3 separate regions of the Homo sapiens genome follow, and all the other regions are linked to region 1. The links come from fine-mapping of genetic effects on gene expression. A gene starts in region 1. Each other region holds a variant in brackets. All regions are shown on one strand. Distances are between the middles of the regions.

Region 1 (5,331 bases):
GGACGACTCCAGGGTTGCTGGCCCAGGGAAGGAAAAAGAGACTTGGCAGGCGCATGAAGCCCCCTGCTGGGACGCCTGTGACACGTAGACCAGCGGCAGATCTTGCCCTCGCCATCCTAACCGTCAGCCTCACCCTCAGCAGGTCCTGCCCTACCCCCCAGACAGCAGCTGCCTCTGCCTGTTCTGGGTCCTGCCAAATCAGTGGCATGGCCGATGGCACACGGGGGATGGGTGTGGCGGGGGACCGGCCCCCTTCTCTTTGGCCTTATTCTGTGGGTGTGATTGGGGCATCACCATGGGCTTCTACCCCGGATGTGCCCTGTGGAGGTCTGCTCCCCAGCTCCCTGCCGGCCAGGGGTCCTCGCCTTACCTCTGCTCACCTGCCCTGCATACCCTCCCAGCAGGCGAGGTCATCCTCCTCACCCATCCCTGCTCTGTCAGCCTCAGCGGAACCCCTGGGTGCCCAGAGGCTCTGGCCACAGCCTCCAGCAGCTTCTTGCTCGGAGGGGCTGCTGGGAGCTGCCCTGAGGCCCCAACTAGGAGTTCCTTCCTCCCACGCCCTGGGGTTGGACTGGTAAGGGGGGAGAAGGGGAGGAATATGAGGTGTGGGATTCTCCCCACGGTGGAGGCTGCACCCTGTTCCCCCTGTTTGGCTGAGGTGCCCTGCACAGAGGTGCTTTGCATTTCTGGGTGATCATTCTCTAGGCGCCTGGTCCGTCCACACTGTCTGCAGTGACCCTGCTCCGTCAACTCTGAGCTTGGCATCTGAGGCCAGCCCTGTACACCCTGCCCTGTAGTCAGGCCCTGGCGGGGCCGCACCGACGTTTGGCTTTGCTCCACTCCCCTCCCGGTCTCTGCCCCTTTCCCCAGCTGGTCCCCTGGGAACAGGACACTTGCTGTGACCCAATGGCATCTGCTCATTTGTCCATTTGCTCCTCTCGTGAGCCACAAGGGTAGGGACTTCCTTGTATCATCTTGGGTCCCCGGGGTCTGGTGTGGGGCCAGGCATTTATTTAGCTGAACTGGACATCAGGGACATCAAGATGTACAGCCCCAAGGTCATGAGTGTTTTGTCAGGAGCCTTAGACCAGTCTGGCCCAGCCTGGAGCTCCCTCCGCATGTGGCCTCTTACAGGAGTGACGCAGCCCCATGCGGTGCTAACAGTGGCAGCACTGAACGTCGGATGGGGCTGAGCCCAGCCACTTCCACAATGGCTGTAGTTCCTATCTCTTCCTCCCTGCTAGGAAAATGTGAAATAGCCCAGAGTGGGGGGTGGGCAGAAGAGTTGCAGGCTACCCAATGCTGGGATGAGCAGAGTTGAGACCTGGGGAGCCAGGCCCAGGACACTTACAGGTGGGGATGTGAGCAGGCACCCCAGAGAGTGAGCACCCCAGCCAGCCAGCACCCATCTACTCCCTCACTGGGGTCTAAGTTCAGCCCCGAGAGCTAGGCTGTAGGTGGGTAGAGTCACAGCCCCAGCGCCGGTGTGAGGGGTGGCCCTGGGCCAGGTAGAGTGAGTATCTGCCTGCTGTCATGCCCCATCCACTTCTGCCGCCTCCCCAGTAGAGGACCCCCTCCATTTCACAGATGGGGAAAAGGGGCCCTGTTGTCTGAAGACTCTCCCATATCCTCCCCTGCCTCTGCCATCCCCTGCTTTGTCCCTTCCCTTCCAGAGGCCCTGCCTTGGTCCTGGTCACTTCCTGGTAGGCACTGGCTCTTCCTCTATGCCTGGGCTCAGGGCCTGGCCACCTAGTTTTCTGACTCCTCCCACTTACTCCCCTCCCCAGTTAACCTCTCTGATCCCAAGTGTGTCTCTCCAGCAGGGAGGAGGGCTATTGCAGCCAGGGATCCCCTTTCTGAGGCTTGGGACCCATTATTGGGCAGCTCTGGGACAGGTGGACGGTGACTTGGCCCACACTCGGTCCAGCTGCAACCCTGAGAACCCGCTTGGTTTGGCTGTGTCTCCTGGAGGCCCTCAGGTATTTCAACCTGTAGGACCCAAACCCAGTCCTTCACCTGCTGCAGGGCCAGCCCTGGACACCCCTGCCCCTGCCTGATTTGGAGCAGCCAATTCAGCCCCTGTCATTGGACTCTGGCCTCTTGTGCTCAGTACAGAGGGTCAGACCTTGGCCGCCTGCCTGGACAGGGCCAGGTCACCACCACCCACCCCCAGCTCCCTTGGGTTCCCAGCAAGATCCTGTCCTTCCTCTACTCACAGCTTCCTGGGCTCTGGGACCTGGGGTCCAGTCCCCACTCCTCATGGGGAGGAGTCCCCCCACGCCCCAAGCAGTTGACTCCCGCACTGGTGGGGGGTCCGCTCGCCCTCAAGCTCTGCAGGCCCAGCTTGGTCTCCCCAGCCTCTTCACTTTCTCCACGGCTCCCTCCACCTACCTGGCCCTGAGAGCTCCCCAGGGAAGCCATTTCCTCCCAGGAAGCCCCTCCTCTTCTCGCCCCTGCCCTTACACCAAGGCATCTGGGCCTACTCTTAGGGAGAGGGTGATGGTGGAGGAAAGGGAGCCTCAGAGGAGGCCAAGTGTAAAGCACCCGGTCTCCTGTGCCTCCCAGCCCCAAGACGACCTCTGGGCCACCGGAGTCCAGACCTGGTCCAAGAGGCGAGGTCCCCCTGGGAAGTGCCTGAAAAGTACCCTGGAGGACATTTGGAAACAAAGACAAGGTTTCCTGGTGCCCAGCAAGCCCTCCCCCACCTCCCCTGCTCCTGTCTTGGCCAGGGCCTAAGTCGCACTCACGGGGCAGGGGTGGGGCCGCCCAGGATCAGGACCACGGGGCTGGGGGGGTGGACAGCGCCCTTTCCACCTGGGTCGCTGGGCACTGGGGTGTCACTGGGAGGGACACGCAGGAGGGACAGACACGCTACCTCACTCACGGGCGAGAACTAAGCACCTACTGTGGACCCGGCGTCTAGGCCCGCGACAACGCCAGTCTTCGCCCCCCAGGGGCCTCGTCCCGGGGCCGCGGAGGCCACGTGCAGTTCCCCGCCCACCCTGAGGTACCGGCCCCGCCCCACGCCCAGCTCGGACCTCCAGGATTGCGGGACCCGCCGGGGAGGGGCGGGGCCGGGGCGGGGCCAGGAGGAGGGCGGACTGGGCGGGCGCGGGCGGGACGGAGCTGCGGCGGCGGCGGGTCCCGCGGGCGGGAGCGCCTGGCGGCCGAGTCAAGCCGCCGCCTCGACCCAGGGCCCGCGGGCCAGGAGAGCGCTCGGCGGGTAAGCCTCGGCGGCGGGTCTCGGCGGGTCTCGGGGGTCTCGCGGGGGGGCGGTCTCCGCGTCTGGAAGGGGCTCGGCGGGCCTTGGCGGTCTGGGGGCTCTCGGCGGGTCTCGGGGGTCTCGGGGGAGTCTCGGGGTCCCGACAGGTCTCGGCGGGTCTCGGGGGTCTCGGGGGAGTCTCCGGGGAGTCTCAGGGGTCCCGGCAGGTCTTGGCAGGTCTCGGGGGAGTCTCAGGGTCCCGGCAGGTATGGGCGGGTGTCGGGGGTCTCGGGTGCGCAGCAGCCTCCCCCGGGCCCCGGGGCCTCCGTGTCCTTGCCAAAGGACGCACGGGGCCTGGGCACGGCGGGCAGTGCCCGAGGGAGCGCGGCTTCGGGGCGGGGGCCGGGTGTCCCTTGCCGGGGGCTCAGGGGTGGGAGGCGGTGCGACGCGTCTGTTTCGCACCCCTCGCGCCCCTCTGGCCCCGCGGCGGGGCCCCTTTACGCGACCCTCCCCACAAGACTCAAAGGCTGCGGCGGGCACTCGCTCTCCGCCCTTCCCGGAATCCAAACTTCCCTCTGCAGCGGCCGCGCTTCACGGAGGGCAAGAAAAGCCGCCCACTGGCGCTGATTCACACTGAAGTGTGAGTGACTGATAGCCGGGCGTCTGAGACTCTCATGGGCAACAGGGAATCTCAGGGGTGGCAGAGGGACTGGAGGAGTTAGGGGGCGGGGACAGCCCCTTCCACCTGTACGCTGGCCTCCCTGCAGCCCAGCACTTTCCCGCTGCTCTGGGCCTCGGCTCCCTGGGGGTATTGAGGGCCTGAGCCCTGCTGTGGGGAGCCTTCTGCTGGTGCTCCTTTCCGTGAGCACCTCCTATCCCCTCTCTGTGCCTCAGTTTGCTCATCTGTTGACACTGGGGACAGCTGTGCCTCCTGGTCTAGTGGCCACACTTAAGTCCTTCGAATTGGCTGTGGCCAGGGGCGGGTACTCCGTGTGGGCTGCTGGGGTGGACAGCCTGCCTGGATGACATGTGTGTGGCCTTGCAGGTGACATGGGCCGGTGATGCAATGTGTAGAATTGTTTCCACAACCGCCTGAAGGCAGGGCCCACAGCCTCCTCCTTGCCGAAGCAAGCCTCTGGGTTCAGGTCAGCCCTGCACCAACTCCATGAGCCTGGACAAGCTCCTGCCCTCACTGGCTCAGGCCCTGTGGGACCAGAGGAGGGGCTGGGCTCCACCCCCTCCTGGTTCTTCCCACTCTGTCCACTGTCTCCTCTACGTAGACACCGTCGAAGGGCCCTCTTGGAGCCCAACCTCAGGGCCCCACTCCAGGCACTCCACTCCTGGCAGGACAGGAGGCCTGGGACGAGGGCTGCAAGGGAGTGAGGATTCTGTCTATCCCCTCTCCCTGCCACCCGCCAGGCTCCCTTTGCCTGGCTCTGTGCCCTGCGTTAGGCACACCCTGGAGGGGGCAGGCAGAAGGAAGACAGATAGGCAGCCGTGTCTAGGAACTGCCAGCCAGGGCCATCTGGTGAGAGGGGTGCTGACAGGGGACCTGGCCTTTCAGGGAGTCCCCAGGCCTCCAGGATCATGGGGGAGCCCACCAAGGAGGCTGGCCTGAAGAGGCAGACAGAGGGAGGACAGGCTCTGGGCCTGCCTTGGCCCTTTCTGCCCACATGGACAGAGGAAGCAGGGTGCTGAGTCAGCTGGAGCTCCCCACCCCCCAGGGATGCACGCACACAAGCAGGCCCACAGACGGGAAGTCCAGGGGCCCAGAGAGACGAGATGGCCAGCCTTGGTTCCTGAGGGGCAGGGAGGAAGGGCGCAAACTCAGCCAGGATCTTGGGTGTGAACTCAGATGCCACCAGTTTCCAGCTGTGTGATCATGGCCAGGAGGCTTCCCCCTGCCACCCCTCCGTTTTCTCATCCATGACCTGAGGGCTGTGAAGCACTTTGTACCTGGTGGGTGGCTATGAGTGTCCGTAGGGGGGATGGTGGTGGTGGTGACATGTGCTTGGTATTCAGTGACAGTGGGTCGCTGAGGGTGCTCTCCCTGGTCCTCAGGGCCGCTGTATGTCCTGTTTTGGGTGGGGGCAGGGACTGGCCTGGAGAGGCCTGGGTAAAGGCCAAGG
Region 2 (5,331 bases), 39 kb after region 1:
CATCTCCCAGCTTTCTGGATATGTTCTGAGCAAACACGGGCCTTCACCTTCCTCCCAGCTGCTCCCCTCCCCTGTCCTTGGGAATTCCGTCCTCCCTCTCGCTCCAGCCGAGCCCTGAGATCCTTCTTGACTTCTCTTCCTTTCTCTTCCTTCCACCTCTGGGAACCTGATGGGCTCCTCAGGTGTCCTCTAGGCTTCAGGAAGCGTCCACAGGCTGCCATAGGGAGGATGAATGGGGAAGGCTGGGGGTGGTGGGTGGTCTGGGACCCTGGGGAAGGCAGGATGGGAGTGCTGGGTGCTGGGCTGCTGGGTGGGCAGGCTGTGGGGTGGGCCTACCATGGGTTGCACTCCTGGTTGGCCTGGCTGACCACTGCCAGCAGAGGATAGTGTTGGCCCAGTCTCTGTCAGGGTCCAACCCGGGTCTCTTTGCTCTGCAGATGCCCTGATGCACCCACCGGCTTACCCACCACCCCCAGTGCCCACGCCCAGGAAGCCAGCCTTCTCTGACATGCCCCGGGCCCACTCCTTTACCTCCAAGGGCCCCGGTCCCCTACTGCCACCCCCGCCCCCTAAGCACGGCCTCCCAGATGTTGGCCTGGCTGCTGAGGACTCCAAGAGGGACCCACTGTGCCCGAGGCGGGCTGAGCCTTGCCCCAGGGTACCTGCTACCCCCCGAAGGATGAGCGATCCCCCTCTGAGCACCATGCCCACCGCACCCGGCCTCCGGAAACCCCCTTGCTTCCGGGAGAGTGCCAGCCCCAGCCCGGAGCCCTGGACCCCTGGCCACGGGGCCTGCTCCACTTCCAGTGCTGCCATCATGGCCACTGCCACCTCCAGAAACTGTGACAAACTCAAGTCCTTCCACCTGTCCCCCCGAGGACCACCCACATCTGAGCCCCCACCTGTGCCAGCCAACAAGCCCAAGTTCCTGAAGATAGCTGAAGAGGACCCCCCAAGGGAGGCAGCCATGCCCGGACTCTTTGTGCCCCCCGTGGCTCCCCGGCCTCCTGCGCTGAAGCTGCCAGTGCCTGAGGCCATGGCGCGGCCCGCAGTCCTGCCCAGGCCAGAGAAGCCGCAGCTCCCGCACCTCCAGTGAGTTTGTGTGGCGGCTGCAAGCCCTGCCTCCAGCTACAGGGACCCTGGCCTGGCCTCTGACGGGCACTCTGCCCACCTCGCTCCCCTGGCACTCTTAGCCCACGACGGGGTACCAGGTGCAAGGGTAGGAAGGTTCCCGGTTGCCTCCAGTCCGCCTTGGTGGAACGTGGAGCATGTCCATGACTCAGCCCTGAAGCTTGCTGGAAATGCTTTGTTTTTTTTTCTTTTTGAGACAGGGTCTCACGCTGGCAACCAAGCTGGAGTGCAGTGGTGCGATCTCAGCTCACTGCAACCTCCACCTCCGGGGTTCAGGTGATTCTCCTGCCTCAGCCTCCCAAGTAGCTGGGACTACAGGCACCTGCCAACACGCCCGGCTAATTTTTGTATTTTTAGTAGAGACAGGGGTTTCACTATGTTGGCCAGGTTGGTCTTGAACTCCTGGTCTCAAGTGATCCGCCTGCCTCGGCCTCTCAAAGTGTAGAGATTACGGGCGTGAGCCACCGCGTCCTGCTGAAATGCTTTCTGCTTTATTTCTGGGAAGTGCCAGGAGACCAGTTTGTCCCCCACTCCCACAGAGTTACGCCAATGGCTGTGGTCAAAGGCATCTGGGACCCCAGGTGGGCTTCCTGCCTTGCCTGGCAGGCAAAGGGTCCAGGAACTGGAGGGGCAGGTTTCGCATGGGTGTGCTGGCCGGCACGCGCACCCCCGAATGCCCTTGCCCACGGTGCCCTTCTCCCAGGGCTCTGCGAACACCTCTGAGATGCCTGCTGCCTGTGTGGAAGTGCCTCTGAGCAGCCCTTGTCACACTCGTGGTTCTAGTTCACCAAGGGCTGCAGAGATGCAGATGTTCGGAAGTCACGTTTTTCCATGACTGTGGGGATAGCGGTTCCAGGGCTCAGCCTCACCCACAGGCTGGCCTCCCATGCTGGCGTGGCCCGTTAATCCTCCCTAGAGCCTTTGAGGCTTTGCTGAGCAGGACCGGCTAGCCACACAGGGAGGCGTGCAGGGACGCCATGGGCGTCCTTTGGGGTCACACTGCATTGTTCATCCAGTTCACGTCCACTCCCCTGTGGCTCTGAGTGGGCTGTGATTTGGCCATGACCGGACCTCCCCTCCCCACGAGCATCCAGAGCACTTGTTGACGGTGTGATGACACTGAGCTTGGGAACCCTGGACTCCCTTGCCAGCATCCATGGCAGCCCTGACCCCTGACTCCGGTGTCGGGCGATTCCTGCTGTCCCAGGGCAGTCGGCACGAGCCCTACCCGGATCTCTGTTGTCCTGAGCTTTTTAGGGTCACAGGGGCCATAGCAGGCAGCTTGCCGTCCTCACACAGAGGGTGGAGTGGGGAGGGGAGCAGAGGGTGGCCGCCCCGTGTCTGACAGTGAAATGGTCCTGCCTTCCTCTCCCTGCCCCTCCAGGCGATCACCCCCCGATGGGCAGAGTTTCAGGAGCTTCTCCTTTGAAAAGCCCCGGCAACCCTCACAGGCTGACACTGGCGGGGACGACTCGGACGAGGACTATGAGAAGGCAAGGCTGAGCGGCAAGCCTGGGTCCCAGTGGCCAGTAGGTGGACAGGTGGTGGGAAAGCCATAGGCCAGGGCGGCCCCTCACAGACCGTCCTGAGCAAGGACCCCCCGAGAACCCGGGAGCCTAGGGGGACACAGCACCATGTAAAGCCCCGGATCCCGGCACCGGGTGGCCACCGTCCGGGGAGTGGTGGTGCGGGTGGATCACTCCGACGTTGGCACTGACACCGTCAGCCTCTTGCAGGTGCCACTGCCCAACTCGGTCTTCGTCAACACCACGGAGTCCTGCGAAGTGGAAAGGTCAGCACAAAGCCCTGTGTGTGCTGGGTCCTCCGCCATGCCCGGCTTCCTGCTTCTGTGTCCCTCTCACTAGCTTCCGTGTTGGGGAGTTGCTGGCACAAGTTCATGGCCCTGCGTGCAGCAGAAACCAGAGGAGTGGACCTCCCTGCTCTGTCCCATGCCCAGCTGGCACCCTGGCTGGCCAGGGCTCTGCTGGGCTGCTTCTGTCAGCCTCACGGCAGCCCGACGTGCTCAGCTCCTGAGACCTACAACAGCGAGAGGACAGAAAGCCAGGCTTGGGAGCGGGGCGGGAAGGTCCGTGTGAAAGCTGCCCGAGGAGGACTCACCCGCTAATATGACTGTCTTATTTTAGGTTGTTCAAGGCTACAAGCCCC[C/T]GGGGAGAGCCCCAGGATGGACTCTACTGCATCCGGAACTCCTCTACCAAGTCGGGGAAGGTAGGCGCCAGGGGAAGATGCCCCAGGGCCCCTCTGGCTCTCCACACACCCAGGCTGTGGGTGGGCCCAGGACTCCACAGTTCCTAAACCACTCCCCTTGTGGACTCTTACTTGGTGTCTCAGCTGAATTCTCTTCCCAGCAGCACCCCCCAATCTATTCCCTAATAGATCTCCATCTGCAAATTGGGGGCCATGATGGCCACCTCCCAGTGGGGGCCAGGACTCGGGTGGGGTAGGGCTCATGCTCTGGGGTGGCGGAGGCCACATGGGGCAGGGGAACGCCAGGTCTGCCCGTGTCCCTCCGAGCGTGAAGTTGTGACCTCACTGAGCCATGCTCTCCCGGGTGTGTCGGAGTGGTTATTGGTGGTTATGAGCTGTTGCTCATCAGAGGCTCTCTGAGGGCTGCCAGTGTCGCCCCCGCTGTCCTTGTGCAGGTGGTCTGGAGTCCCTCCCCGCCCCCCGAGGGCCACAGGACCCAGCCTTGATGGTTCTGCCCCCCTATCCCCAGCCCATGGTCTCCCGAGGCTGGTCCCGCTGTTTCTCAGGGAGCCGTCAGCCTCCCGCTTCCGTCCTGTAGGTCCTGGTTGTGTGGGACGAAACCTCTAACAAAGTGAGGAACTATCGCATTTTTGAGAAGGTGAGAGGGCTCTGAGTGGGACGGGGACCCTGGCCGCATGGCCTGGCAAGGGGCAGGGCAGAATCTCCCTGATGAGGCATAGGCAGCGGGTAGACTGAGACTGGCACCTCCAGGATACCGCCCTCCCCTTCCCCTCCACCATCGCTCACCCCCCACCCCTCCTGCTCAGCCTCCCTCCTCTCGTGGCCTACCTTTGTCCTCCACTGACCCTAGTGGGGATGGGCGGTCAGCCATAGACCCTGGGTTGCTTGTCTTGTCTTTTTCTTTTTGCGGGGACAGGGGTCTCACTGTCTTTCTCAGGCTGGTTTCAAATTCTGGGGCTCAAGCAATCCTCCCACCTCGGCCTCCCACAGTGCTGGGATTACAGGCGTGGGCCACCGTGCCTGGCCTAGGTTCATTTCCTGACCTTGTCTGAAGTGCTCTGGGTGCAGGCTCCTGGACATGGAGGACGGAGGGGAAGTGAGGTGGGAACATGGAGAGCACAGGCCTGATGCGGAGGCCACCTTGGGGGCACCACCGACAGCCAGGGGCCAGCCTGGTGATGCCGCTGTTGATGCTGCTGCCTTGTTTTACAGACGGGGAGACTGAGGCCTAGAGCCGCAGAGTGGCCTGGCCCTGCTGACGCTCCCCCTTCTCTTCCCCCACAGGACTCTAAGTTCTACCTGGAGGGCGAGGTCCTGTTTGTGAGTGTGGGCAGCATGGTGGAGCACTACCACACCCACGTGCTGCCCAGCCACCAGAGCCTGCTGCTGCGGCACCCCTACGGCTACACTGGGCCTAGGTGATGGCAGTCCATGTGGCTGCCAGGCCAAGGCAGTCACAGGGGCCCTGACCCCAGGCCACACAGACGGACATGGGCCCACATGGGAGGGTGAGCAGGAGCAAGGCTGTGCTTGCCTAGGGCCTCTGTGATGGACATCTCGTAGGACCCAGCCAGTCTCATCCAGCAGGTTGGGTTCTAGGGCTGAACCAGGCGCCAGGCTCCAGAGGACGAAGGGACTCTGTTGCCCCACACTAACTTGCCCTGTCCCAATCCCAGAAACCCAGGACCAAGCTGTGCCTGGGCTCCAAGGACAGGAACACTGGTCCCCCCATCACACTCACCCCTAAGTGGGCTGGGAGCCAGGCAGGGCCAGGGCAGCTGGGTGGGGGCCGGGGCTGGCCCTGGGACCCCCAGGAACGCTAAGACACAGGCTCCAGTAGGGGCTGTTGCCTCCAATAAAGCAGCAGTGAGCTTTGCCTTGGTGGCTGGGGCTTGATTGGGAAGGAGGGGATTACCAGCTTACTGGGTGCCCATGCTGATGTCTAAGTGGTGACCGCAGCAGTACCCGGGAACC
Region 3 (5,331 bases), 32 kb after region 1:
GCGTGATCATGGCTCACTGCAGCCTCAACCTCCCAGGCTCAGGTGATCCCCTCAGCTGGGACTACAGGCATGCCACTATGCCCTGTTAATTTTTTTTTAAATTTCTTGTAGAGATGGAATTTCATTATGTTGCCCAGGCTGGCCTGGAGCTCCTGAGCTCAAGCGATCCATCCGCCTTGGTCTCCCAAAGTGCTGGGATTACAGGTGTGAGCCACCGCATCCAGCCTATTTTTTATTTATTTTTGTTTTTTATTTATTTATTTTTTTGAGATGGAGTCTTGCTCTGTTGCCCAGGCTGGAGTGCAGTGACTTGATCTCAGCTCACTGTAACGTCCACCTCCTGGGTTCCAGCAATTCTCCTGCCTCAGCCTCCTGAGTAGCTGGGATTACAGGAGTGTGCCACCACGCCCAGCTAATTTTTGTATTTTTAGTAGAGACAGCGTTTCACCATGTTGGTCAGCCTGGTCTCGAACTCCTGACTTCAAGTGATCCTGTCTTGGCCTCCTAAAGTTCTGGGATTACAGGCATGAGCCACCGCGCCTGGCCTATTTATTATTTTTATGTCTCACTCTGTCACCCAGACTGCAGTGCAGTGGGTGCGAACACAGCTCACTGCAGCCTCGACCTCCTGGGCTCAAATGATCCTCCCACCTCAGCCTCCCAAGTAGCTGGAACTACAGATGTATGCCACCGTGTCCGGCTAAGTTTTGTATTTTTTGTAGAGATGGGGTTTCACATGTTGCTCAGGCTCACCCCATCTTTTATTTTTAGAGACAGTCTCACTCTTGTCACCCAGGCTGGAGTGCAGTAGCACGATCTTGGCTCACTGCAACCTCTGACTCCCGGGTTCAAGCAATTCTCCTGCTTCAGCCTCCTGAGTAGCTGGGATCGCAGGCGTGAGCCACTGCACCCGGCCTTAGTCCCCCTCTTTTAGCTCTGGGGTAGTGGGAGCCTCCAACAGCCCTGCAGCACCCAGCAAGTCAGCTGTGGCCTCCCTGGGCCTCTGGTCCTGGCTCTGCCTTGCCTCATGCTGGCTCCACACAGCCCCCCAAATCTACCTCTTCTTTGTGGGCAGCCAGGCCTGCCCTCGGGTGGCACTCTGGGGCTAGCCAGTGTGCCTACAATTTTTTCCGTATTTGGCCCCAGAGTGGGCTCCTGGGGAGGGGGCAGCATGCCAGCCTTGCTCCCTGCTCTTCCATTTGGTAAGGCTTAGAGGCAGGAGGCCTGGCCCCAAGTTGTCCTGTGGAGGGTCCTCACAGTGGGTCTTGGCAGCTGCCCCTCCAGGCTCACCTTCCTGCCCTTGCCACCTCCCACAGGGCCCCTGCGCTTTGTCATCATCCACAAACGCTGCGTCTACTACTTCAAGAGTAGCACCTCTGCCTCCCCGCAGGGCGCCTTCTCCCTGAGTGGCTATAACCGGTAAGTGCCCGACCTGCCTGCTGACCTCGGGCCCCCACAGCCAGCGGGTCCCTCCCAGCAGAGCCCCAGCTGGGCCTGCCCCTTATTCCCGCCCAAGGAAAGTGCTTTCCCGAAGCAGCCTTCGTGCCCATCCCCTGTCCTCCCCGCCCAGCCTCCACAGTGCCTCGCCCTCTCCGCGTGTCCTGCCCTCAGGCGCAGGACCTTGGGGGTGCCAGGGTCTTCCTGTGGCTTTGTGCACAAGTCCCAGAGGCCTGGACAGCCTGCTCTCCAGAGTCTCCACTCGGCCACCACCCAGTGACTTCTGCATCTCTCCTCCCTCCCCACCTTGCCCCTTCACCCACCATGACCTCTTTCCAGGCAGCCCAGACCCCAGCCAGCCCAGGCCCTGTCCCAAACAGAGGCTGGGCCCTAGGATTCCCTGCTCCAGGGTCCTCCCAGGCCGGGATCAGTTTCCAGCTTCACGCATGTCCTGGGCTGGGCTCTATCCAGTGATGGGCCATGAGCTGCCCTGGAGGGCCTTCTGCACTAACAGGCAGGTGGGCGGTGGCCAGGTGGCATGTGGGTGGGGGAGTGCACTGGCACAGCCCATGGCCTGGGGCCCACACAAAGGGTTAATGCTGGCACCCAGCTCTGGTTCTGGTTGCTATCCCATCGGAGCCCTGCACCCCACAGCATTTATCTATGCCTCTTACCACCCCTTAAGGGCCCAGCCCCTCCTGCCTATGAGGAACCAAGGGTCACATGGTATCAGTAGTGGAACTGGGACCTTTGGAGTGACTCTAGGCCCCGGCCTGCACCCTGGCCACAGGCCTGGTAGGGCAGCCTTGCCAGAGCACCCAGCCTGGTGCCAGGCCCCCATGCTGGCACAGAGCTCCGGGGTCCCCTGGGGAAGGTC[G/A]TTCCCTTTCTGCAGACAGACACAGCGCCTTCCGGCCTCCAGCATGTGCCAGCCATGCCATGAACCCTGGGCCCAGTGGCAGATGCAATCATGCCCCAGGGAATTGTCTAGCCCATCAGGGAATGCTGGGCCTGAGGAGTTTTGGCCAGGCTCTTATGGGCCGTATAAGTGCACCTGCCCCGGTGCCTGGCTGGCAGGGCTCCCCACGTGATAAACTCAGCGCAAACCCCACATCCTGGCTGTGTGAGTGGGCCGCAGAGCAGGCACGAGTCATTCCCTGAAATGCACTCAGGGCTGCTGCTGGGCCTCAGGGGCACGGAGCCCTGTGGGGTACCCCAGGGAGGCCAAGCAGGCCTGGGCAAATGGGGCCAGAGGTGGGAGGGTGGCGTCCATGTAAAGTGGCATTGGCGGGCATCGAGGCAGGTTTGTCCTTGTCTCCTGTGCACTGCTGCTCCCACGAAGCCCACCCAGCACCCCTCTTCCATGCCCCTCCATGCCCCCTTACGCCTGCCTGGGCATGAAGCTCACTACTGGGAGCATCAGCAGCCAGGGCCCACCCGATCTGCCCTCTTCCGTTGGGGCGTGGTGCTGGTGCCGAGACGTGTTCACAGGGGGGTGCTGTGGGAAGGCCATCCCTATAGCTGTGAACCAGGCCGTGACCCCTGGCGCTGTGCCCCCAGGGTGATGCGGGCGGCTGAGGAGACCACGTCCAACAACGTTTTCCCCTTCAAGATCATCCATATCAGCAAGAAGCACCGCACGTGGTTCTTCTCGGCCTCCTCCGAGGAGGAGCGCAAGGTGACTGGGGGTCCGAGGACGAGTGCAAGGTGACTGGGGGTGTGGGCCTGCAGGCACCAGGCTGGACCTGCCTTGGGGGCTCGCTGGTCCTGGGGCGCTGGCCTCTCAGCCCCGGGCAAAGAGAAGGTGTGGCTGGGACACAGGCAGCTGGGTGGGTGCTGCCCCAGCTCCATCCCCATGCCCAGAGCCTGGTGCCAGCGCCCACACAAGGAACATGCTGTCCTGGGAGGTGCCCCTGTGGGCTGAGGGGAGCCACACAGCCATGTTGTATCCAGCCGGGTCGCCTCCTCTGACCTTGGGAGTCACAGCAGAGCAGGCAGGGCAGTGAAGGTGGAGGGGTGCGGTGGGGCCCACCCTGGTGGCACCGTGCCCACCACAGCCCCGCTGACCTGCAGAGCTGGATGGCCTTGCTGCGCAGGGAGATTGGCCACTTCCACGAAAAGAAAGACCTGCCCTTGGACACCAGGTGAGCCCGGGCCCAGGGCATACCGGGCAGTGAGGGTCCCTGGGGCGCCTGGGCCTGACCCGGGTGTCCGCCTCCCAGCCCCGGGCTTGGCATAGAATTCCGTCCTTAAAGGTTTCCTGGAGGTGCCAGCTGGGCTGCGTCTCTCTGCTCCTGTCTACAGATAAACACAGATACAGGACAAGCACAGATGTTCACACACAGACGAGCGACACGCGGACACGCACACACAAACACAAGCAACACGCGGACATGCACACACACAGAGCAACACGTGGACATGCGCACACACACAGAGCAACACGTGGACATGCACACACACACAGCAACACGTGGACATGCACACACACACAGCAACACGCAGACATGCACACACAAACACAGAGCAACACACAGACATGCACACACACACAGAGCATGCACAGGTGTGCATGCATCTCTCTGCTCCTGTCTACCTCCAGCCCCATCTGTCACATCTGTTTCTGTGTTGCCGCCATGGGTAGTTCCTGTTAGGGGATCATGTGTGTTTATACGCCTGCCACCAGGGAGGCCTGGCATGGCAGCAGCTGGGCACTTTGGGTTCCCAGCCCCCTACGCCCACCCTGGCTCACTCAGAGTGAGACCAGAATGATTCTCCTGGCGGGGCGCCACTGGGCAGTCTGAGCCTTGGCAGCCTCCCCCGTGAGCTGGCCCGACGTGCAGCAGATACTCTCTGGATTGGGACTTCCTGGCCCGAGACGATGTGGAGGGAACAAACCTTCCTGTCCTTTCACAGGTGGGGACAGGAGGCCCAGGGAGGGCTGGGCACAGCCAAGGCTGCCCTGCAGGTCCCTGCCTGACTCCGGGCTCCCGTCCCCTGGTCCAAGCTGTTCAGCCTCGGGCCCAGCCCAGAGTCGCCCAAGCCCTCTTGAGGCAGGAGCAGGTGGAGACGTGGGCACAGTCAGGGCGGCCATCCTTGTGGGCCAGAAGGGGCACCTAGTGGAGGCACCACAGCCTCCAGTTCTTCTGTCTGTCCTTGTAACTGTGTGTGCATGTCCGCGTGTTGCTCCGTGTGTGTGCATGTCCGCGTGTTGCTCTGTGTGTGTGCATGTCCGCGTGTTGCTCTGTGTGTGTGTGTGCAATGTCCACGTGTTGCTCTGTGTTTGTGTGTGCATGTCTGCGTGTTGCTCTGTGTTTGTGTGTGCATGTCCGCGTGTTGCTCTGTGTGTGTGCATGTCCACGTGTTGCTCTGTGTTTGTGTGTGCATGTCCGCGTGTTGCTCTGTGTGTGTGCATGTCCGCGTGTTGCTGTTTGTGTGTGCATGTCTGCGTGTTGCTCTGTGTGTGTGTGCATGTCCGCGTGTTGCTCTGTGTGTGTGTGTGTGCATGTCTGCATGTTGCTCTGTGTGTGTGTGCATGTCTGTGTGTTGCTCTGTGTTTGTGTGTGCATGTCTGCGTGTTGCTCTGTGTGTGTGTGCATGTCCACGTGTTGCTCTGTGTGTGTGCATGTCCTCATGTTGCTCTGTGTGTGTGTGCATGTCCGCATGTTGCTCTGTGTGTGTGCATGTCCGCGTGTTGCTTGTGTTTGTGTGTGCGTGTCCGTGTGTCGCTCGTCTGTGTGTGAACATGTGTGCTTGTCCTGTATCTGTGTTTATCTGTATACTTCCATGTCTGTGTGACAGAGTCCTTGTGTCTGTGTGTCTACATGTCTGCGCGTGTCCCTGTGTCTTTGTGTATATATATCCATGCCTGTGTGCCTGTGTTCCTGCGTGTGCTTG

What was found.
Region 2: its variant is fine-mapped to the expression of SH3BP2 in whole blood (INTERVAL, PIP above 0.99).
Region 3: its variant is fine-mapped to the expression of SH3BP2 in whole blood (TOPMed, PIP 0.92).

Annotation. Positions count from the first base shown.
Region 1 is chr4:2,789,916-2,795,246 of GRCh38, forward strand. It overlaps SH3BP2 (SH3 domain binding protein 2), which reads left to right and starts at 3,170. Exons shown (of 13, transcript NM_001122681.2): 1 at 3,170-3,223. RefSeq lists a silencer at 2,888-3,237.
Region 2 is chr4:2,829,056-2,834,386 of GRCh38, forward strand. It overlaps SH3BP2 (SH3 domain binding protein 2), which reads left to right. Exons shown (of 13, transcript NM_001122681.2): 8 at 438-1,092; 9 at 2,516-2,624; 10 at 2,868-2,923; 11 at 3,276-3,357; 12 at 3,935-3,994; 13 at 4,642-5,331. The coding sequence ends at 4,779. Among named protein-coding and RNA genes, the nearest start is that of ADD1, 12 kb to the right of the region's middle. The variant C/T (reference allele first, on the strand shown) is at 3,298.
Region 3 is chr4:2,821,619-2,826,949 of GRCh38, forward strand. It overlaps SH3BP2 (SH3 domain binding protein 2), which reads left to right. Exons shown (of 13, transcript NM_001122681.2): 3 at 1,317-1,419; 4 at 2,995-3,112; 5 at 3,508-3,578. Among named protein-coding and RNA genes, the nearest start is that of ADD1, 20 kb to the right of the region's middle. RefSeq lists enhancers at 4,331-5,217, 5,218-5,331. The variant G/A (reference allele first, on the strand shown) is at 2,315.